Linked DNA regions of Homo sapiens. The protein of the gene in region 1 interacts with the protein of each later gene in a pairwise test. Each region holds a gene or a part of one and is shown in the gene's direction. Other genes may lie near its edges. The genes, in order: FGF12, GRIP1, ZNF460 and TCOF1.

What was found.
Region 2: the proteins of FGF12 (region 1) and GRIP1 interact in binary tests that used the Homo sapiens proteins (3 or more experiments, as listed by UniProt).
Region 3: the proteins of FGF12 (region 1) and ZNF460 interact in binary tests that used the Homo sapiens proteins (3 or more experiments, as listed by UniProt).
Region 4: the proteins of FGF12 (region 1) and TCOF1 interact in binary tests that used the Homo sapiens proteins (3 or more experiments, as listed by UniProt).

The regions. Positions count from the first base shown.
Region 1 is NC_000003.12:192,138,890-192,143,586, reverse strand, and holds the end of FGF12 (fibroblast growth factor 12), read left to right. Parts: 3' UTR 1-4,197; downstream 4,198-4,697. UniProt on the Homo sapiens protein: Involved in nervous system development and function. Involved in the positive regulation of voltage-gated sodium channel activity. Promotes neuronal excitability by elevating the voltage dependence of neuronal sodium channel SCN8A fast inactivation.
Region 2 is NC_000012.12:66,389,040-66,396,084, reverse strand, and holds part of GRIP1 (glutamate receptor-interacting protein 1), read left to right. Parts: intron 1-1,732; coding exon 1,733-1,877; intron 1,878-3,268; coding exon 3,269-3,408; intron 3,409-3,582; coding exon 3,583-3,777; intron 3,778-7,045. UniProt on the Homo sapiens protein: May play a role as a localized scaffold for the assembly of a multiprotein signaling complex and as mediator of the trafficking of its binding partners at specific subcellular location in neurons.
Region 3 is NC_000019.10:57,290,472-57,294,601, forward strand, and holds the end of ZNF460 (zinc finger protein 460), read left to right. Parts: intron 1-227; coding exon 228-1,759; 3' UTR 1,760-3,598; downstream 3,599-4,130. UniProt on the Homo sapiens protein: May be involved in transcriptional regulation.
Region 4 is NC_000005.10:150,353,737-150,360,736, forward strand, and holds the start of TCOF1 (treacle protein), read left to right. Parts: upstream 1-3,960; 5' UTR 3,961-4,010; coding exon 4,011-4,118; intron 4,119-7,000.

The DNA.
Region 1 (4,697 bases):
GCTGCGATGTGTGGTTTTGCTTGATTTTGTATTTTATTTGGGCATCTGGAATTGACACACCATTACATTCTGTTTGCAGGATTTTTTTTGTAACCATGAAATTGAACATTTCCAAATTATAAACTATGTTAATACCTATAAAATATATAGCCAGGAACCATTTATCATCAAGAAAAGTGTAAGAAATTATTTTTGAGATGTAATTTAAGATTGTTTTATGTAAAAGGAAAATCTTGTATGGCATCGAATAGCCTTAATGAGTTTAATTCTTTCACAAAAATGATTTCAAATTATCCTAGAGTATAACATTTTTATCAAAGATATTATTTCCGGAGTTCTTCTTTCTTTCTTTTTTTTTTTTTTTTAGTAATTTAGCAAAAACATTACTGTTCTAATGCTGAAGTGACTTTTGCCAGTGCCATGTCCAGGTGGTGAGGTATAAGTTACTTGCTCTTAGCATTTGGTCTGATTTTTTTGCTTTGTGGACACCTTTGAGAGTATCCACAAAGCAATGTCTCAGGTGTGGACACCTGAGAGCATGTTTTAGAAAGCTTTGTACCCTGTCTTGTGGCAGGAAAGAAAGAACAGGGGTTTTACATAAGGAAATAAGTCCTAGGAAATTAGTCAACGCAAATTGCATTTGCGTTTGTACCTTACCACAGTCTTATATTGTTTTTTAAACTCTGCCATGAAATTTGGAGACATGACTGTGAAATTCCTAACTTACTATCTTACAAAGCCAGTAGCTAATTTGTTGCTCTATGTATGATCCTGTTACAAGTCCAGTTTGCAATTCATTTGTTTCCTAGAACACAGAAGGGTACCAGTAATACACTAAATTTTCAAGGTGTGTAGAGAAATAATATGGAATTAGCAGCTATGACTCCAACAGACAGGATTGTGTGAGCAGCTGAAAGGAGCAAAAAAGAACTCAGTGTAAGAGAAGGCACATACATAGTTAAGAATACTAAAGTATTTTTAAAAATCAAGGAAGAAATAAATGTTACACAATTTGCATTGGAATAAATAGATCTATTTAGTCCTACAAATCAGGAGTGGTGTAGAGACATCCAAATTTAAAGAAAAAAAAACACAAAACAGAATGTTAAAAAATGTATGCAGATTTATGGATATTATCAATGAGAAGACATAGCATGTAACTTCTCCTATATCTCTACTGTCCAGCATGTATTGTTCCAAATATGACTCCCTAAAATATATACACTTTGCAGAAGCTCTAGGCCCTCACCTCAAACCTTGCCATTGGTTGCCGTATTTCAAGGTCAATATAGTTTCCCTCACTTTACACAATCATTATTCTTCAATAGTGGACCATATCCTTCACCAGGTATCCTATTTCTGTTATCTAGAGGTTAGCAGAAAATGAAATGAAGGAATTTCCCTAAGCAGTTGGGAAGAACAAATTGTATGCATGTAGGCAAAGATTTTGAAGATACATTTGCAAGAGATATTTGTTTAACCAAAATATTTGGAAAGTAACAAATAAAGACATTTAAATTTTCTAAAAATGGACTTGCTCTTCTAGGAAAAGAATACCCCTGGGGCAAAAATATAACTCTAGCTGTATTTCTTCTTGTCACTCTTGATTCAACTTGATTATAAATACACCTGTCACTACCAGAACCAAAAAAAAAAAGAAAAAAATCCCAAGCACAAAGCTTATTTTATTTGAAAAAAATAAAAAAGAAACTTCAACACTATGGGACACTGGCTCTTTTAGCATGAAATGACTTGAGCTTTTGTAGTGATGATACACATACACACTCATCAGTAAAACGATGGTTTCATAAATAACACAATTGATGCAAATCATAAAAATCAATTACAATTATGATTTCATGACAAAATATATTTAATTAAGTTTGTTATGAAAAAAATAGAGATATGAATCACTAACAAAATTCCTCCATTTTCAGTGGCTATTCATCATTTATCATCTAGACTCACATTTGTCTCCTTCCTGATAGCAGTTAAGAAAAAATTCTAACCACACAATTTGTATATTGTTTTTCTCCGTATTATGTTAAGCAAATGTTCACTGCAGTAAAATGTTTTGGAAATTAGCTTTGTCTTATTTCCAGTTTAGTTCAGAGAATTAATTGGAAACCTGATTTCTTTTACACATAAACCTGACAAAAAATGTAGCTTAGAGCAAAGGGTGAATGTTTGCTTAACTCCTGCTTACTTCTCAAGTACATGAAAACTTTAATAGAATATGCCAGTATTCACTGAGTTTTTAAAAATATTACCATGTGTAAACATATAATATCCAACTTCATCCAAAAATATGGTTGAGTTTAAGTACTTTGTTTTTCAGGCTTATTTCAAGTATAATAATTCTTTGATTTTCATTGTTCTGATTTCTGGGTCTTCAATTCATTCGTCACTTTTCCTTTTTAAGTAAAATAAGCTTTTTTTTTTTTTTTTTTTTTTTTTTGGAGTTGCATTGGGATTTTTCCCAGGAAAAAATATGGCTTTTAGTAATGCTTTGCAATTGGCTACGCAGATATAAATTAAGATATGTTTATTCTGAGTTCTTATTGGAATAAGTTTCAAAATCAACGAGCTTAAGAATGAAAACAAAACTTTTGAGAGTCTCACAAAATAGCTTTCTGGTCAATACACCTTACTTGATTTTTAAGCTCGCAGAATAAAGTATAGAAACAAATGGAGCTGAAGTTCCATTTGCTAATTCAGAGACTTTTGTGCTTCCGCAAATTGGAGGGCAGCAAGCCATCCTATTCTCATAGTAATCGTTTTGGCTTTGAAATTTACATACAATTTAATAGCACATTTTTAGCCATTATGGATTGGCGCAATAAAGAGATATCAATGTAATGCAATGTGATGCTTTATGGGCCTCATTCTAATTCAGAAAGCTTGTTTAAAAGAACTAAGACTCTTCTGTTTAATAAAATAGCAACAATCTAATATCTAGATTGGTAGTCCTGCGGTGCCACTAGTGGGAGATGAGAGTATTAAGACAAGAGTAAGGACAAGGAAAGACTTAAAGGTTGCATATTGAAAAGTTTGGAATTCCTAATTTGGGAGCACTGATTTCTTGGTGAAGAAGTAAGTATGACTACGTTGCCAGTAATTTTTTAAAAACATAGACCCAGAAATAGCAAATCGATTTCACCCTCATACCTTAGTCTACAAGGCCTTGCTCTTGAGAAGGTTTTCCATGATATTGCTTAATTTCATCTGCACAAGATGAGACACAAACATAAAAATTCCCTGCTCATTTTAATACCATAAAAGGCTGAGGTTATTTCTCTGTCATAAAATTGTAAATAGCATTTTTTAAGTCAAAATTACATTTAAAACAGTGGATTGTTCTACAAATATATATGTGTATATATACATATGCTTCTGAAATAAGGATATATTATATGAGTTTTTATTTGATTTGTGGTCTTTAGTCATAGGTAATCAAAAATAAAGAGATTTGAATGCAAAACTTTATACATTAATGTACATTTCTAATGATGGTACAAATTGCCACTTTATAATAAAAAAGAAACAGGTGGGAATAATAATCAAAGCACGTGTTCCTTCAGTACTTTGGTGATTTTTAATCCCCCTTGTGATGCACAGGAAATTATTTTTTAGTTACAAAAAGTTATCTTAGAAATCTATACTTCCCAATACAGATTTCATGTTAAGTCATATCAAATTGAGAATTTGTGGTGAAAGAATAGGAAAAGGATGCTAGATGCTGATCTTTCTTTTTCAGGATTTTTCCTGGAGCCCAAGTTAAAAATTCAATACTTAAATCTAAGTTAAGTGAAAATTAATAATGTTCAGAATGATGTATTGAGCTTTAGTAACAGACGGAAGCAAAAAAAAATAAGAATATTTAACATTATGATAATAGCCTTAAAATAATGTAATAAAAATTGCATCATTAAATGTTCTATTAGTTGGAAAGAATGAGCTGATGTTTCTTTGTCTTTGCTCCAAGTACAATTTAAAGACAGTGACATTCATTTTACTTAAAATTGTTCAAAAAGTCCAAAACATACTCCCATGGCTAGAATTGGTATTAGCTCCAATACAAGGTTAAATGTTACAATCTTAAGAAATTATTGACACTGAAATGTTTAGTAAACATGTTGTATGAGAAACTAAACAAATTAATGTTTCATTTTTCCATTAAAGCACAGATTATTCAAATCATTGTTTTCTGAGCTCAGATTTGTAAAACGTTTATACATCATTACCCTCCTGGAATTAAAAACAATTAAAATCCTGAGATGCTCATGCACGTAGACGAAATACTGGCACTTTTTTTTAAACATTAAACTTCTTTGAGAAGTCTACCTTTTTTTTTTTAGTGTGTTTATCCTATATTGCTGAAAAAGCGCTGTGTCTTTTTAAGAAAAAGATCAAAAATTGATTTACAGATGGGAAAGATGTCTAATTTTGTAGAAGAGTTGAAAGAAAAGTAAATGTTTCTTTGTAATTACGTAGCTACTTGTCTCAACCTGACATCTTGCTTTCAAGGATTAAGAACTAAAGTACGTTCATTTATTCTTTTATTCATAACATACCAACTAGAGGCTCAGTTGAGTTTAGGCATCATACACTGAATTGCAATCTCAAAACAACAACAACAAAGGCAGACACATAAATAAATAATGCAATACCTAAAAGTATGTGCTATGATAAATGCA
Region 2 (7,045 bases), on another chromosome or scaffold:
AGAATTTCATCCAGGATATTGTTGATGATGAGGGCTGCAAAGTACATGTAATCTATCCAATAGTACTCTGTTCATTTAGGTCAAAGCCAGCTCTGAAAGGTGACAAAATATCGTACTGTAGGAAAATTTAGACTTTTGACCTCTGCTGATTATTTGGTTACCCTCTATCTTGATGTTTCTCTCTGGAGCCCTTAGCAGATCATCACCAGCCTATTGGCCACAACTTCAGCATCAGCCCAGAAGAAACTTGTGAACCAGCAAACAGAGCTGTTTTAGGCTTGATATGGGAGCTTCTCAGCTGCTAATGTAAATTTGAGCCCAATGTTGAAGATTTTGTGCCCTAAAATGTTGACTTAAGCATTGCAGTGTGTGGTGGATGGTCTTTAGTTCTGAATGTGTGGAGTAAATACGTTGAGTAGAGCACTCAGAAAGTGGAGGTAATGGCTGCATTCAAAACTCCCAATCTATGGCCAGAAGTGAAGTAAGTGCTGGCGAGAGAGGACACATTGCTTCCCAAATGACTTGATAGACCTTTCATTTTATATTCATCATAATTCTTCACTGCAAACACAAATAATTGAATTGTTAACTCAAGCTTTGGTTTTCCTCCTTATTTTAGGATTTCATATCGTAAACGAACAGCTGCTCACTGCAAAAATGTGGCCATGTTAATGCTTCACTAGGATGTAGTCTGACTGTAAAAGCTGACTATTTTGCTAAAGTAGCCACTGAACCATTTCATTTTATCCTTAGTTGCAGAAATGAAACAGTTCCTTAACCATTCACAGCTCCCAGGCCCAAGGAATAAAACAAGAAGTGCCCAAGAACTTTAAGCATGTCAGAAGCAAATAAAACCTTTGAATTCTGAGACTTCTTATTTGCAACTCTGACACCATCACAATACCCATCACGTTGAAGGCGGCCCATGATATCTTTCTGGCCAGTGCTTTAGGCAGAGCACATTCACAAGTGTCTTCAACTATAATAATGTTGAATAGCCAAAATTAGTTTATGACAGTGTGGCAGGCTGGTCTATGCTGTTGAAACATAGCTTACAACAGCTGTTACTCCATTGAAAGAGGAGAGATGATCATTCAAACCTCCACTTTAATATCCGTAATTCACTGATAGGACTCACATTAGAAGACAGTCAGTGGAATGATATCTAAGAGATTCTAGATTTCTTGCTGTTGTCTTCAAGTTTACTTATCTAAGTTCCACTTAACCATATATATGTTATTTGTTCCAACCCTTCGCAAAATCCACTTTTCTATATCAAAAGTTAGCATGCATGTAAAGCTTAAAACGGAAACAGCGTGACCCAATGTCTGTCTTCTTTGTTACTGAGTGACTCTCTCCTCTCATATTATAATGCCTCCTCAGCCATATGTTTATTTCACAGATATTTACTGCATACTTACTAAATGCTAGGTAAGCACTGTCCTAGACATGGACACAGTTGAAAGGTCCTGCAGCCCCAGCTGGGCGGATCTCACACATTTAAAACATAAGTCATTAGGCAGTGTTCCTCTCCCCTGGCACTGACAATGATTATATCCCTGTATTTGAATGTAAGATCCTACTAAGGAAATGCTACTTCCCAAAATAATTATTTTCTGTGACATGATACTTTGACGAGGATGTTTTGAATTCTTTTATGTATGAATCTATGCATCTTACTCTTTTGCTTTTTCCAAAGAAATCAATTATGATTCCTTGGCATTTATTACAGATGAGCAAGAAAGTTCCGGAGCAATTATTTACACCGTGGAGCTTAAACGCTACGGGGGGCCCCTTGGCATCACAATTTCAGGAACTGAAGAGCCGTTTGATCCTATAATCATTTCAAGCCTCACTAAAGGGGGATTAGCTGAAAGGTAAAATTTGAAGTAACTGTTATAATTACCTGTGTCTGAGACGGGCTTCCTTCCTCACAACCACATAAAAACATGCTCCTCTCTCTGTGGTTATCTGTTGGCTTTTAAAAATCTGCACAAAGGATTGATCTTAGAGCCTGAGAACTCTCAGGCAGAGTTCCGACTTGACTCTGAGGGGCATCTTACAGGCAGTAAAAGACGTCTTGGGCTTAGCATTGATACTACTCTCTGAAATGTATAAGCTGACCACAATTGACTGAAGGCGGATTTGTATTGTGTCCATTTTGAGAGGAGGAAACTAAAGTTCAGGGAGGTTGAACAGCTTGTCCAATTTCATTCAGCAAACACTTGCTGAGCCTCTGTTACCTGACAGGTGCCACACTTAGCTGCTGTGTTTTCAGAAAAGGATGATACAGACATCATCTTCAAGGATTATGGGAAACAAAGTGTATAACCCATTTTAATAATGTCTTAAAAGCTGGAATGTCCATTTTTTCCTTTGGCAATGATGTACACACACACCCACTCCCCACCCTCCGCTAAACTGCATTTCTTTCTGAGATGTGTTGTTGGACATATAACAAACCCTATAAGCAAATCTGCCCTCCAGTAACCTAGCTCAGGAATACACAAATGCATTGTTCCTGCTAACAGTTGAAAACAGTGGCTAGCAAAATAGAGACACAGCATTGCAAAATGTTGGAGCTGCAGTGTACCTTAGAAATTAGCTCATACAGGCCAGGTGCGGTGGCTCACACCTGTAATCCCAGAACTTTGGGAGGCCGAGGTAGATGGATCACGAGGTCAGTTCAAGACCAGCCTGGCCAATGGGGAAACCTCATCTCTACTAAAAATAGAAAAATTAGCTGGGGATGGTGGTGCTTGCCTGTAATCCCAGCTACTTGGGAGGCTGAGGCTGGAGAATTGCTTGAACCCGGGATGCGGAGGTTGCAGTGAGCCAAGATCGTGCCACTGGACTCCAGCCTGGGTGACACAGTGAGGCTCTGTCTCAAAAAAAAAAAAAAAAAAAAAAAAAAATCTGTAGAAAGAAAGGATGCTCCATGCTATCCACTACATTTGTCATTCAACATTGTTCATTTTCTTGGGATTTTTAGGGTGCTTAACCAATGACTCAGCTTTCTTGGAATTAAAAAACACAGTTCATTTTAATAACTAATTAAAACAATTTTTAAAATTTTATTGGAAACTAAAAAGTAATCCACAACAGATGCAGTTATCTTATAACATTGCCCAGGAGAAAGCAAGAAGGGACTTCTGGAGATCCTTACCAAGTCTTTATTATGATGAATGTATAAGGTATGTCAGGGAATTTATATTCAGTACCATACAGGGATTATTTCTACCTCTCCTATTACTATTTGGCTTTTCAGAACTGGCGCAATCCACATAGGAGACCGAATCCTAGCCATCAATAGCAGCAGCTTGAAAGGGAAGCCTCTGAGTGAAGCCATCCATTTGTTACAGATGGCAGGAGAGACTGTCACCTTGAAAATTAAGAAACAGACAGATGGTGAGTAGTGAATTGAAAGCCACAATTAAGGATTTCCAGTGCATTTTCTTCCTTGAAAGAATGTGCTAGTGTCTGTGTGTAATTCTAGGGAAACAAATCTCTAGCCACGGAGTATCTTGGTATATTTTTATTTAAATTTACTCTGATACTTAAACTCCTTTCCTGTCTATAAAGCCCAGTCAGCATCGAGCCCCAAGAAGTTCCCTATTTCTAGCCATTTGAGTGACCTGGGGGATGTGGAGGAGGACTCCTCACCAGCACAGAAGCCAGGCAAGCTCTCCGACATGTACCCCTCCACGGTGCCCAGTGTGGACAGTGCTGTGGATTCATGGGATGGGTCTGCAATAGACACCAGCTATGGAACTCAAGGTATGTCTTTACTTTGTCCCCCAGAGGACTTGTCATTGTTGAAGCCCATGCTTCTCCAAGATTCATCCTCTGCTCCATGAGGAGAATATCTTTCTTTAACTTGTGTCTGCTTTGGTGCAGCCATAATCATATTGAACACATTGAATACTTACACTCTGCTGGCCATGCATTTTCTTCTAGTGCTTATAAGGCATGAACCTTTACCAAACACTAACAGGCCTCCATTAGGTCTACTGATGGCCAAGTATCCCATCCAGGGCTTGTCCTTCAAGCTTAGATTAATGTGAGGCAAACCATACAATAAAGTGGCTCGTTCAATACAGGCCCCATTGCCTTATTTTTCAGCAAGCTTTCCACAAAGATGGATTGGGGAGTTTGGAAGAGGTGCATAAGAGATTAGCCAATGATTTGTGACTCTATTTATTCCTGCACACTCCTGACTTTTTTTTTTCTTTTAGAGACTGGGTCTCACTCTGTCACCCCAGCTAGAATACCCTGGCACCATCATAGTTCATTATAGTCTCAAACTCCTGGACTCAAGGGATCTTGCTGCCTCAGTCTCCTCAGTAGCTGAGACTATGTGCACACACCACCACACCCAGCTGATTTTTAAATTTTTGTAGATACGGGGTCTTGTCATGTTCTCCAGGCTGGTATCAAACTTCTGGCCTCCAGCAATCCTCCCATCTTGGCCTCCCAAAGTGCTAGGATAATAGGCATGAGCCACCATGCCCTTTCCCTGAATGTTTATAATTAGAGCACTATAATCACAATATAGGAAAGTATAGAGTAGATTTTTCTTCATAGGTGTCATCGTCATGTGAAGAAATACTATCTACATTAAAAAGCCTCACTCATGGAATATAAACACATAAAAGGTGTCAGACTGAATACAGAGCATAAACTAATAGCTTCTTTTAAAAAATATTTTCTTCCCAGTGATCCGTAGCATCAACAAGAGAAGTATGTCAAAACTTCTTGGTATTTCTCCTCATCTGAGCCTTACCTTCTCTCATGTTCTATGTAAATTCCAGCCTCTGAATCCCTTGTTTGCTCTGGGTTTCAGTCAGTCAAATAATAAAACACATAAACAGTTTAGAGAACACATTGGTGTGAGGGCTGCTTTGTCACTGAGTTAACTGTACTTTTTAGGAGTGTCTGTATCCAGTTTGCTCTCTCCTGGTTTTCCTAGTTTCCTTCTCTCAGCCTGCCTATGTTGTGTCACTCTCTGTTAAGTCCTCTGGTGAACAAAAAACAAAAATGGAAGGGAGAAAAAACTGGAAAAAAAAATGAAAGGAGATGATATTTCAAAGTTGTCAAGTTGTTACTTTCATTAGAGATGATACTGGAGTTAGGTGGGGAAAATACTTTGAACACCTAAGTAGAATTGGGGCTTTATCTGGCAATTAATTTTTCCAAGTCATAATACCTTGTGACAAGTTCACCTATGCCACCAAATAACAGACCTTCTGATTGCCTGAGAATTGATGGGCCACCAGAAGACACTGAGTAAAGGACAGAAGTCACATTCTATCAGAGTAGACTCAGGTTTATTTATCAATTTATTGTGTATTGGTTATTTATTTGTGTATTTTTTGTGTATTGCTTATTAATGTAGAGATATTTTTGTTACCAGAGATTTTTGTGAGGGTGCTATTGATATTAATTAGTTCTTCCCTGTAAGGTGATCTGTAAGACCTTAGCTACTCCATCCCTTGAAACCACAGACACAGGACCATGAGAAGCAAACTGAATATAGGACCTGCCCCTCACTAGTAAAAGATGAAAAACCATTTACTATTTGTGAAGCATTTTGAAATTTTGAATCATAGTCATAATATTACATTTTGCATTTATAATTTAGACATTTTTATGAGGTTGAAGGGAACTGAGGGATAAGTAGAGACAATGGCAATCAGGATAGAATCGAAGTACTCCAAGGTAATGAAAAAATAGTAATAACCCTTTATATATATAGAACACTCTAGAGTTTACAAAGCACTTTCACATAACTAATCCCCATTAATTCTTGTGACGAACATGGGAGCTGAAGGCAGGATTTCAGGTTTGGAAAGGGTTTAGGAGTCAGCTAGTCTGATGTCCAGTGCAGCCCTTGGTGCCAGGTCCTGCCTCACTGCACGCCAAGACACGCTGCATGGACTTGAATGCCCAAGGTGACAGGTTGTTCCTTGTGCTGAGGCAGCCCCCCATCTCCACGTAGCTCTGATGACTCTAAAGCTCTCACTTGTATTGAGCTGCAGTATGCCTAATAGTCCCGGCTATACCCTCAAGGTCATTCTGCACTAGACTAAAGCCTCTTCTCCTGACAGCCCCTTAGATACTCGAAGACAGCTATTGGGTCTCTGTTGAGGCTTTCCTTCTCCAAGCAAAATAGCCCCAGTTCCTTTAACTGTGTCTTCTATAATTTACTGACGAGTATCTGTATCGTCCTGTGGACCTCCCTTACGAATGTGCTTCAGTTTACCTGTGTACCCGTTAAAGTGTAACATTCAGAAAGGAAAATCACACAACAGCCCGACAGCCCGGAGCAAAGCAAGCTGGTCACTGGCATCATTGAAGACAGGAGAACTGATCAATGACACCTACCTCAACATAAGAATTTTAGTGGTCATGGCACATCTGTCACTCATTTTGCGCTTACAGTTTACCGAGATCTCAAAGTCTTGTGAATGTGTTTTTTTTTCTTTACCCGTGATATTCAGTTAAACTGCATCTCTCCAGATTGTGCTTGTGAGGTTGACTTTTTAAAAGCAAGGCACAGCTGGGTGCAGTGGCTCAGGCCTATATTCCCAGCACTTTGGGAGGCTGAGGTGGGCAAATCACCTGAGGTCAGGAGTTCAAGACCAGCCTGAGCAACGTGGCGAAACCCCATCTCTACTAAAAATACAAAAACTAGCCAGGCGTGGTGGCACACACCTGTAATCCCAGCTACTCGGGAGGCTGAGGCAGGAGAATCGCTTGAACCAGGAGGCGGAGATTGCAGTGAGCCAAGATCATGCCACTGCACTCCAGCCTGGGCAATAGAACAAGACTACGTCTCAAAAAAAATTAAAACAAAAATAAAAGCAAGGCATAGAACCACACTTTTATTTTTCCTATTCAATATTATGTTGTGAGATACAGCTTATCTCTCCAACCTGTCCCTCCAGCCTCTCAGCAGGCTCTCTGCCTTGTTCCAGGAAGCCCCTGCACATTCTCTCTGTTCCCTTTAAGGCTGTAATAGTTGCCTTGTTCCCAGGAGACTCCA
Region 3 (4,130 bases), on another chromosome or scaffold:
TTCACCATGTTGGCCAGGCTGGTCTCAAACTCCTGACCTCAAGTGATCCGCCTGCCTTGGCCTCCCAAAGTGCTGGGATTACAGGGATGAGCCACTGTACCCAGCCCATCAAATCATAGCTATTTTCAAATCATCACTATTTTCATCTTATTGTTCTCACCAAAAAGGTGGTTTCATTTCTTCTGTACTATCTTAATAAGTTCTTTTGTGTATTGTGTTCCCTTCAGGTGACAGCACAAAACCTGAGACCGTAGAGCCTATCCCTTCTCATCTGGCCTTGCCTGAGGAAGTCTCACTCCAGGAACAGCTGGCACAGGGAGTCCCAAGATACTCCTATTTGGGGCAGGCCATGGATCAAGATGGGCCATCTGAAATGCAGGAATACTTTTTGAGACCAGGGACAGACCCACAGAGTGAGAAACTCCATGGGAAAATGAGCCTTGAACACGAAGGTTTGGCGACAGCTGATGGTATTTGTTCAATGATGATACAGAACCAAGTCTCACCAGAAGATGCTCTCTATGGATTTGACTCATATGGACCAGTTACAGATTCCTTGATTCATGAAGGGGAAAATTCCTATAAATTCGAGGAAATGTTTAATGAGAATTGCTTCCTTGTTCAGCATGAGCAGATTCTCCCTCGTGTGAAGCCCTATGATTGCCCAGAATGTGGGAAAGCCTTCGGCAAGAGCAAACACCTCCTTCAGCATCACATCATCCATACTGGGGAGAAGCCCTATAAATGCCTGGAGTGTGGGAAAGACTTCAACCGCAGGTCACACCTCACACGGCACCAGCGGACTCACAATGGAGATAAGCCCTTTGTGTGCAGTGAATGTGGAAGGACCTTCAATCGCGGGTCGCACCTTACACGGCACCAGCGGGTTCACAGTGGAGAGAAGCCTTTTGTGTGCAATGAATGTGGAAAGGCCTTTACCTACCGCTCCAATTTTGTCTTGCATAACAAGAGCCACAATGAGAAGAAACCCTTCGCATGCAGCGAATGTGGAAAAGGCTTTTATGAGAGTACAGCCCTCATTCAACACTTCATTATCCATACTGGGGAGAGGCCCTTTAAGTGCCTTGAGTGTGGGAAGGCCTTCAACTGCAGGTCACACCTCAAGCAGCATGAGCGGATTCACACTGGTGAGAAGCCCTTTGTGTGCAGTCAATGTGGAAAGGCCTTCACTCACTATTCCACCTATGTCCTGCATGAAAGAGCCCACACTGGAGAAAAGCCTTTTGAGTGCAAAGAATGTGGGAAAGCCTTTAGCATTCGAAAAGACCTCATTCGACACTTCAACATCCACACTGGAGAGAAGCCCTATGAGTGTTTACAGTGTGGAAAGGCTTTTACCCGCATGTCAGGGCTCACAAGGCACCAGTGGATTCATACTGGAGAGAAGCCGTATGTATGCATCCAATGTGGGAAAGCCTTTTGTCGGACCACAAACCTGATTCGACACTTTAGCATCCACACTGGAGAGAAGCCCTATGAATGCGTGGAGTGCGGGAAGGCCTTCAACCGCAGGTCACCCCTCACAAGGCACCAGCGGATTCACACTGCAGAGAAGTCCCACGAACCCATCCAGAGTGGGAACGTTTCTTGTGAGAGCACAGATCTCATTCAACACTCCATCATCCACACTGAGAGTAGCCCAGTGAGTGCAGTGAATATGGAAACGCCTTCAATTGCCGCTCATTCCTCCTCACTCGACATCAACGGATTCATAGTGGAAGAAACCCTACCATTGTAACAGATGTGGAAAGACTTTTTACGTACACTTCAGTCAACATCCAAGAATTCCTATTAGCGAAATAGTTTTTTAATATAACCACTGAAGAAAATCTGTGGTGAGAGGAAACATCTTACCATCTGGTCATTCATACTGAAGAGAAACTCCATAAGTATCATCTCTGTGGGAAAACCTGTTTTAGATCATCATTTGTCATCTAAACAATTATGTTAGAAATTGACACAGCCAAGAGTCTTATTCTACATCTGATAATTCACCCATGAAAGAGACCCAGTGGTTACTGTGCACTTAGGAAAACCTTCAGCCACATCTTTCTTATTAGTTTACAGTGAAATGTTATCTCAGGGACATTCAAACAAAGGAGGAGGAGTCATAGGGAAGAGAAAGAAATGGAAGCACAGCTTCTTTCAGACTTCCCTGACAAGCCCATGGCAATTTGTCATCCCCTCCTTATTTTATTTGGGAGAGGGAAATGTTTCAGAAACAAAAGGGCCTCATCCCCTTTATTTTCCCTGTGTATACATTCACTGCTGTCCAGTGCTGTAGACAAACGGTTTGTTTGAAAACATTTTGTGAAAGCCTGCTTTGTTCCACAGCATTGTCTCCACTCTTGAGGAGCAGAAGCATATATCTTTATGAGAAAGATGGAGGCTTGAGTTATGAAATACTTTTACATTTAAGGAGATAAAGGATGTACATATGAATGGGCACATTTTACTGCACACTTCAGACGCTTTGACTTTTTTAAAAAAATTGTTTCTCCGTGTGTCTTTAACCACCCAGTACCATACTTTTTTCTTGATCTGGATCTACTTGTCAATTTCTTCTTTATTTTTCTGTAGGATGGAGATGATATTGTAGCTGTTTGTACATAATGTAATCCAGGGAGTCCTAATTCTTCCCTCTGATTGTGGTTTCTCAGCTTTTTTACTGCTCTTTAGAGAGAGTAAATAGTTCAAAATTCACCTCAACAATTTTCTAGAGGTCAATTTGGAACCAAAAATGAAATAAGACATGTAGCTAAAGTAAGTTAAAAGATTATGATAAACTCAGAAAATAAACACAGAGAAGGAATCTCATTTTTCAGTCTTACAGAAGATTGTGTGAAGGCTGACTATACATAAAGTGACTGGAATTTTAACAGGTGAACCTGCATATGTATATGCAGGTAGTTGTCACCATGGATTGAGTCCAGTCGTAGTAATTAATATGTTTAATCAGAATATTTTGGAATTTCTCTTTTGGTATTCTTTTTGTTTCTTTTATTGTTTTTAATTGACAATGTTTATGGGGTTTGGTGTGATATTTCAATACATGTGTGCTAAGAGTAATGATCAAATCAGGGTAATTAGCATATCCATCTCAATCATTTATCATTTCTTTGTGTTTAGAAACATTCACAGTCTGCTTTTCTAGCTATTTGAAAATATAAAATGTATTATTGCCAATTGTACTCATTCTGCAGTGCCACAGAACACTACAACTTATTCAAATGGAATCTTACTTGCTGTAATTTTGTATTTGTTAACCAATCTCTATCTGCCTCTCTGCTGTCCTTCCCAGCCTCTGGTTACCACCATTCTCAACCTTTTATGCTTGCATATGAGTAGAAACATGGAGTATTTCTCTTTCTGTGTCTAGCTTATTTCACTTAATGTCTTTCAAGCTCATTCATGTTGCTGTGAATGACAGGTTTATTTTTCATGGCTGAGTAGTATTCCATTGTGTATATATGCCATGTTTTCTTTCTTCATTCATCTGATAATGGACACTTAGACTGATTTCTTAGCTATTATGAATAGTGCTTCAATAAACATAGGAGTGTAGATCTCTCTTTGACGTATAGATATATTTGTTTTTGCATATATGCCCAGTAGTGGTATAGATCATTACCAGTGGATCATATGGTAGTTGTATTTTTAACTTTTGTTTATTTTTCATTTTTTAAAATGGGGTCTTGCTGTGTTATTCAGGCTGGTCTCAGACTCCTGGGCTCAAGCAGTCCTGCACCTCAGCCTCCTGAGTAGCTGGGACTACAGGCACACACCACCGTGCCTGGCTATAGTTTTAGATTTTTGAGGAACATTCATACTGTTTTCCATATGGCTATACTAATTAGCATTCCTACCAGCCATATATAAGAGTTCCCCCTTTTCCATGTTCTCAGCAGCATTTTTTATTTTTTATCTTTGGTAATAGCCATCCTAACTGAGGTGAAATTATATCTCATTGTGGTTTTGATTTGCATTTCCCTGATTAGTGATGTTGAGCATTTTTTCATATACTTGGCCATTTGTATGTCTCCTTTTGAGGGATGTCTATTCACCTTATTTACCCATTTTAAAATCAGATTTTTTATTTTTATTTTTTT
Region 4 (7,000 bases), on another chromosome or scaffold:
TTAGATCTTACAATGGTTTGTATGCTCATCATGTACATTCATCACCCATCCAGCCACCCAAGCAGAAACCTGGGTGTCACCACCAGTTCCAGCTCCCAGCCCTCTCTGATCTCAGGGGTCCCTCATAAGGCCTGGCCCGTGAAGGATTCCACTCTCTCCCTGCAAACATCCATCTGCCTTGCTTCCCTCGCTACCCAGTGTAGATCCCAGGACCCAGAATTTTAGCATCTCTTTGCCAATACTTTAGACTCCTGTGCCCTTTTTTCCCCACCCATCTGGCAAAGCCCTAGGCCTGGATAAATCCCACTATGTACATACATCTCCCCAGCCTGCAGCTGGGTAGGTGAGCCCTGATGGAGGAATTCACTCAGCAGGACAGGACGAGACACACATACACTAAGGACCACCAACCTCAACTGGGGAGCCAAGGCTGTCAGGCAATTGGGGATTTTGTGGGCAAGTTGCTTCTCAACACTCTGAATGATCATTCTTTCAAACTCCTCACCACCTCTTCTTCACTCTCAGCAGAAGACCTTGCCTCCCACTTTGCAGAAAAAATAGAAGCTCAAAATGAAATCTCCCTTAACATCCCACTATAAACCTACATCTACATCTGCACCCATCCTCTCTTTGTTCCTGCTTTTGGGTTCTAGAGAACTCATCCCTCCTCCTCCCCAAGACGAACCCCCCCAACCCACATGCCTGATCCCAGCCCCTCGCACATGCTTGAGAGAACTTTACTCGCTGATTATCTCCCCTATTTCTTACACTCTTGGTTAACCTCTCTCTCCTGGATCTGCCATTCACTTTTAAACAAATCTCAGGTTTCTTCTACCTTGAAACACACCTCCCCTAACATACATATTGGCCCTAGCACTTTATCTTTCTCGTCCTTTTTATACAAAAACTTCTCGAAAGACCCACTGCCTCCCTCATCCCTCCTGCACTCATCAGACCACTGCCATCTGACCCCCTCCATCATGCCACACATAAATAGCCCTCCCTAAGTCCCCAACAATCTCCACGCCTGTCCATAAACCAAAGCCCAGGGCTGCACCCTCCTCCTATCTGACCTCTCAGAGCATTCCCTCCATCAAGTCTTCCCAGCTTTCTAAAATGTCTCCCTTGGCCTCCTTCCATAAGCCCACTCTCCTGGGCTTTCTCCAAGCTGTCCAGCCACTCCTGATCAGCCTTTGCAGGCAGATCCTTTTGTACACAGCCCTAATCTGTAGATGTACCTCAAAACTTCATCCTGGGCCATCTCTCTTCTCTCTCCACATTCTTCTCCCTGGGTAAGCTTCTCCTCATCCACAGCCGCAATTATCATCTGTCTATCGACAACTTCTCATCTTCATCTCTAGCCCAGACCTCCACGCCACGTCCAAACCCAGGTTTCCAAGAACCTTCTCAACATCTGCATGTGGTGACTGTAAGGCATTTCAAGCTCAAGATGTCTAACATAGAATATATACTTTCACCTCTCTGTCCACATCCTCCTCTCCTCAATCAAACCACCCCCCTGTCTCAGTCCTCTTCTAGTTTTTTCTATCTCAGTGAAAAATACTGCCTACTTGTTTGCACAGAAACCTCAAGGTCCATTCTGACATTGCCTTTTCCTTCCCCTCCCATTCCAACACACCTCTGTGAAAACTTTAGTTCCTGATTAACTCTGGGAACCTTCCACTCTCTTCAACTCCACTGCCACCAGCACCCTCCCCGCTGCCCCCGCCACCTACCACCCGCCCCCCCCCCCCACATACACTGTCTTCTCCCTGGATGCCTGCCTGCACTCCTAACCCTGACTTGTCTTCCCACATCTACTCATACCCACCAGACACACTCCACTCTCCACTGGGCAGGCACACAGGTCACAGTAAAATTCAGATTTCATCCTGTACCTCTTGGGCTTACACCGTCAGTGGCTTCCAATGGCTCTTAGGATGGAGGAAAAAAAACCCTGATGTGGCCAATCCTTCACATGGAGTCTGCCCTCTGCCCACCTTCTACACTCCCCAGTCCCCCTGCTCTCCCTCCGGACTATGCTACAAAGGCCTTTTTGTGTCTATTCTCTCAGCTGTACCTTCTGCCCTAGGCCCTTTGCACAGGTTCTTCCCTCTGCTCAGGTTTCTTCTCTCTGACTCTCCCTTACACACAGTTCTGGTTTCCTCATAACCATTAATTTCTCAGGGAATCCTTCCCTAACTCCCAAGAAAAAAATAGATCCCTCCTTCCTGTTATATGCTTTCACAATAATAGCACACACGCACACAGAGAGCGCTATTGTTCAGAGCTCCTCTAAGCATTTCTGCTGAGAATTCATTTACTCCTTATGACAACCCAGTGAGGTAGAAATTATAATTATCTCCATTGTACAGATAAAGAAACTGAGTCACAGTGACTTGCCCAAAGTCACCTAGTTAATGAGGCAAAGCCAGAATTTGAACCCAGGCAGTGTGACTCCAGTGCAGCTTTTAAACACTATATTATTACATAAGAAAACACTATCCTTTTCCTTCCTGCACTTACCCGCTGTTTGTAACACTGTATTGTATGACTATTAGTTTAGTATGTGTCTCCTCCGTTAGACTGTAAGCTCTATTGGAGTAGAGACAATTCCATCACTAGACTGTAAGCTCTATAGGAGTAGAGACTATTCCATCCCCAATGGTAGGTACTCAATAAATATTTGCTCAAGAAAATGGGAAATGTTGAATGTGTACAGACACATAACATTTTCCATTCAAGTTCAAGACAAAGATAACCACATACCTGGACCTCCTAGGGTTAGGGACTCCTGCGCCCGTAAGAAACATGCTGCCCTCAGATTCTCAATGGGTCGGTGAAGTTAAGAACAGCTCACTCTAACATTCTCCAGCCTACCTCACCTTTTCCCTGCCATCCTTCCCTCAACAACTACAACAGCCTCACATTTAGTATTAATGGTATGTGCTTTGGTTTTAGCAATCTTTTAAAAACACAAAACAGGGTCAACCTCCTCGGAAAAGCCAGTCAGAGACTATCTAATGCCCTCAGAGCAAAGTCCAAACTCTGTTGGGGGTGGGGGAGTTGTAGGCCTTGTCTACTTCTTCATCCTCATGTGCCCTCATTTGTTCCCTCTTCCCCACCTCACCCCACCCCACCTGGACAGCCCAGCAGCGCAGACTAGGGGTTCTGGGTTTAGGGTTCCCAGGCAATAGCAGGGTGTTTTCTCATGCCTAGACTCATGCAGTGCCCTCTGCCAGTCCTCTCCTTTGCACCCAGCAATTTCGGGTGTCTTTATGCCTCAGCTTAGATATCTCTCTGGGGTTCGGTGCTCCTCCTTGGGGCGCCCATAGGCTGCATCTGTCCCTGACAAGGCACACAAGATATTGAACTATAGTTGCTTGGTTACGGACAGTCGTCTCTGTGAGCTTTGAGGGCAACTGCCATGTATTATGCATCTTTTGAATCCCCCTAGCCTAGCCGGGTGCTAGCCCAAGTTAGGTGCTTATTACAGATTTGTTCAGTTAGCGAATGAATCAATGAATAAACTGGCAATTCGTGTCTGGTTCATGGGCACCAAAAACCGTGCGAAATGGATAAATGAGCAGGTAATGGCAGTACAAAGTTCGGATCTAGAGAAAGATCCAGATTAGGGAGTTCAGAGATGAGTAAAACGCAGACCCAGCCATCAGAGAATTAACAAGGAAGATAAATCTCTTCAAGAAGCCAGCCGGAAGGATTAAAAGAGAGTCGTCCAAGTCCCGGCCGGCCCCGGGGGCGGGTCCCTGTCTAGCCCCGCATGCTCCGCGCCAATGGGCGGTATTGTTGATCACGAGTCTCCGCCCCCTTCGCCTTGAGGGGCGGGGCCGGCCACTCCCGGAGAGGGGACTACGTTTCCCGGCGCGCCGCGCGGCCGGAGCGAAAGAGGAGCCGGAAGTGTGGCGCGCGAGGTCTAAGGGCGCGAGGGAAGTGGCGGGCGGGGACTAAGGCGGGGCGTGCAGGTAGCCGGCCGGCCGGGGGTCGCGGGTATGGCCGAGGCCAGGAAGCGGCGGGAGCTACTTCCCCTGATCTACCACCATCTGCTGCGGGCTGGCTATGTGCGTGCGGCGCGGGAAGTGAAGGAGCAGAGCGGCCAGGTAAGCGTTCGTGGGCCGTGTGCGAGGGCCGCGTGCAAGATGTGGAGATCAGCGGCCCGCGGCCCGCGCCCCGTCCCCAGGCGACCCGGCAGGCGCCCGGAGCCGGGTCCCGCAGTGCTCGACGGCGCGGCCAGGGGTACCGGAGGAGCCGCAATCTCTGCCTTCCCACTGCGACTTCAGTTCCCCTGGGCCTCACTTTCCTCATCCGGGCAGTGGGTTGGGCCAGAAAGTGTGCTCGCAGGGGCCGAACTTTGTAATTCCCGCTTCCCTTACCTCCACGCCCTTCCTGGTAGCGGGTATTTTAAGTTTCCTAAGTCTCCCGCCACGTGGCTAGGCTCTGCGCGGCCCCCCCTGGGGCAAGGAGGTTGCTGCGAGTCTCGGGGGTGGATTGCGACCAGCCCCTCGGGGGAGCGCCTGGAAAAGGGACCCTACAGCCTCTTAGTTGAGCTGGAACTCAGGCCTTTAGCGATTGTCTGTACTGAGACGGTCAGCTTTGGTACTCGAACTCGTGGTACAGTCATTTCTTACTTGATTAATTCAACTGTTAATCCGGTACTCAGGGTGCTTCCTGGTGTTCGAATGGTGAGCACCATCTCTCAGCCCTCCTGGAGCTTACACTCTAGTAAGGTAGACAAATCAAAGAATCACAAAAGTGACTATATGCTTAGCACCGCAATAAGTGTTAAGAATGAGAGGGATGGGCCGGGCACGGTAGCTCACGCCTGTAATCCCAGCACTTAGGGAGGCCGAGACTAGCGGATCACCTGAGGTCAGAAGTTCGAGACCAGCCTGGCCAACATGGTGAAACACCGTTTCTACTAAAAATACAAAAATTAGCTGGGCATGTTGGCGCACGCCTGTAATCCTGGCTACTCATGTGGCTGAGGCACAAGAATTGCTTGAACCCGGGAGGCAGAGGTTGCAATGAGTCAAGATCGTGCCACTGCACTCCAGCCTGGGCGATAAAGCGAGACTCTGCCTCAAAAAAAAAAGAGAGATGGATGGCAGATTGCCCTGGTCAGGAATAGCTGAGGTGTAAATGCCTTGTGGTGGGAGGGAACTTGTGTACACACTGGCCTGGAGAAAGTCCACTCTCTTGAGCCCAGGAATTTGAGGATACAGTATGAGCCATGATCATGCCACTGCACTCCAGCCTGGGCAACAGAGCAAGACACTGTCTCAAAAAAAAATTTTTTTTAAGTCCATAGCAGGCCAGGTACGGTAGCTCACGCCTGTAATCCCAGCACTTTGGGAGGCCGAGGCAGGCGGATCACTTGAGGCCAGGAGTTCAAAACCAGCCTGACCGACATGGTGAAACCCTGTCTCTACTAAAAATGCAAAAATTAGCCATGCATGGTGGCATGCACCTGTAGTCCCAGTTACTCGGGAGGCTGAGTCAGGAGAATCACTTGAACCCAGGAGGCAGAGGTTGCACTGAGCTGAGACTGAGCCACTGCACTCCATCCTGGGTGACAAGGCGAGACTCCATCTCAAAAAAAAAAAAAACGTCCATAGTGGCTGAAGTGTGAAGTACAAGGGCCAGATGCCCCTGGGGAGATGGAGGCAGGGGCTGGCTGGAGTGGTCTGGTGGGCAGTTTGATCTTCCTTGGAAGAGCAGTGGTAAACCAATGGAGAGTTTTGAACTGGTGAGACAGTATCCTAAGTAGTCAGATCCCTTTGCCCTGTGGTGTAGGCTCTGCTCCTAATGCTTGCTCTCAGAACCTCCTGGAGGGACTAAAGGGTGATGGGCCCTAAGACGTTATGTATGCTTTTCCCAGTTTCTCTGAACCTCACTTGCTCTTCCTACCGCAGCTATGGTACTTCACAGATAAGGGGAGCAAGAGATAGTACCCATCTTCATTGGAGCAAAATATCCTGCCGTCATGGAGCACACATTCTAGTAGGAGCAGACAGGTGACAAATAGAAAAAGTTTAATAAGTTAATGATATAGTATATCCAATGATAGTTGGTGCTTGCTATAAAAGGCAGGCAAGGGGGATAAGGGATGTCAGACTTCGATTATAAGTAGGGTAGTCAAGGAAGTCTCATTGAGAAGGTGTCATTTGGGCAGAGACCTGAAGGAAATGAGGGAGTGAGCTGTGTAGTTAACAGGGGAGAGAACATTCCAGACAAGAAGAATAGCAAGGCCGCGTTAGAGGCAGGGTGGCCTGACACATTTGAGGACAGCAAGGAGGACACTTTGCCTGAGGTGGAGCAGAGGGAAACTGACTCTTGAAATCTTAGTGTTACCGGCTCACTGCTGGGCACTGACAGATGGTCTTGTTCAAACCAGATAGCAGCCTGCAAGGTAGGTATCGCTGTTGTCCCCATGTTAAGAAGAAATCTGAAGTTCGAAGACGTGACGAGATTAGTTCAGTCCACCCGTGCCCCACATTGCTTAGCCTCATTAGAGTACTTGATATCCTGGCTTATTGACATTTACAGAGACATTGGGCCCTCTGGCCTCTGCTCCAAAGGCCTGGATTCCACCTGGTTCCCTCTGCTTCCACCAAGGGACTGGTACCATTTGGGCCCAGTCTTCTCCCAGCAGACTAGTAGACTGTGGTCATGCCACCTGGATGCCTCAGGTGTCTGGGCTGTGATTCGTGCTTTGGGAAGATTGGCTGGCCACGTCTTTGAAAGCTTTTTTAAAGGTCAAAGGTGGGGAAAACCCTGTCTCATGGCCTCTAGGCATGGATAGTGCCAGAGAGGCTGGGAGCTGGATGAATGCTAGCTTGGAACATTCCACCTCTGGCCTTTCAAAGGGGTTGTCTAAAAAGGTTTTAGTTGGGATTGGTTGTTCTTCTTGTCTCTGGAAGGTTTGGGACAGAACTGGCAGGGCCAAGCAGACATACTTCCCAGAGCAAAAAGACCCTCTTTT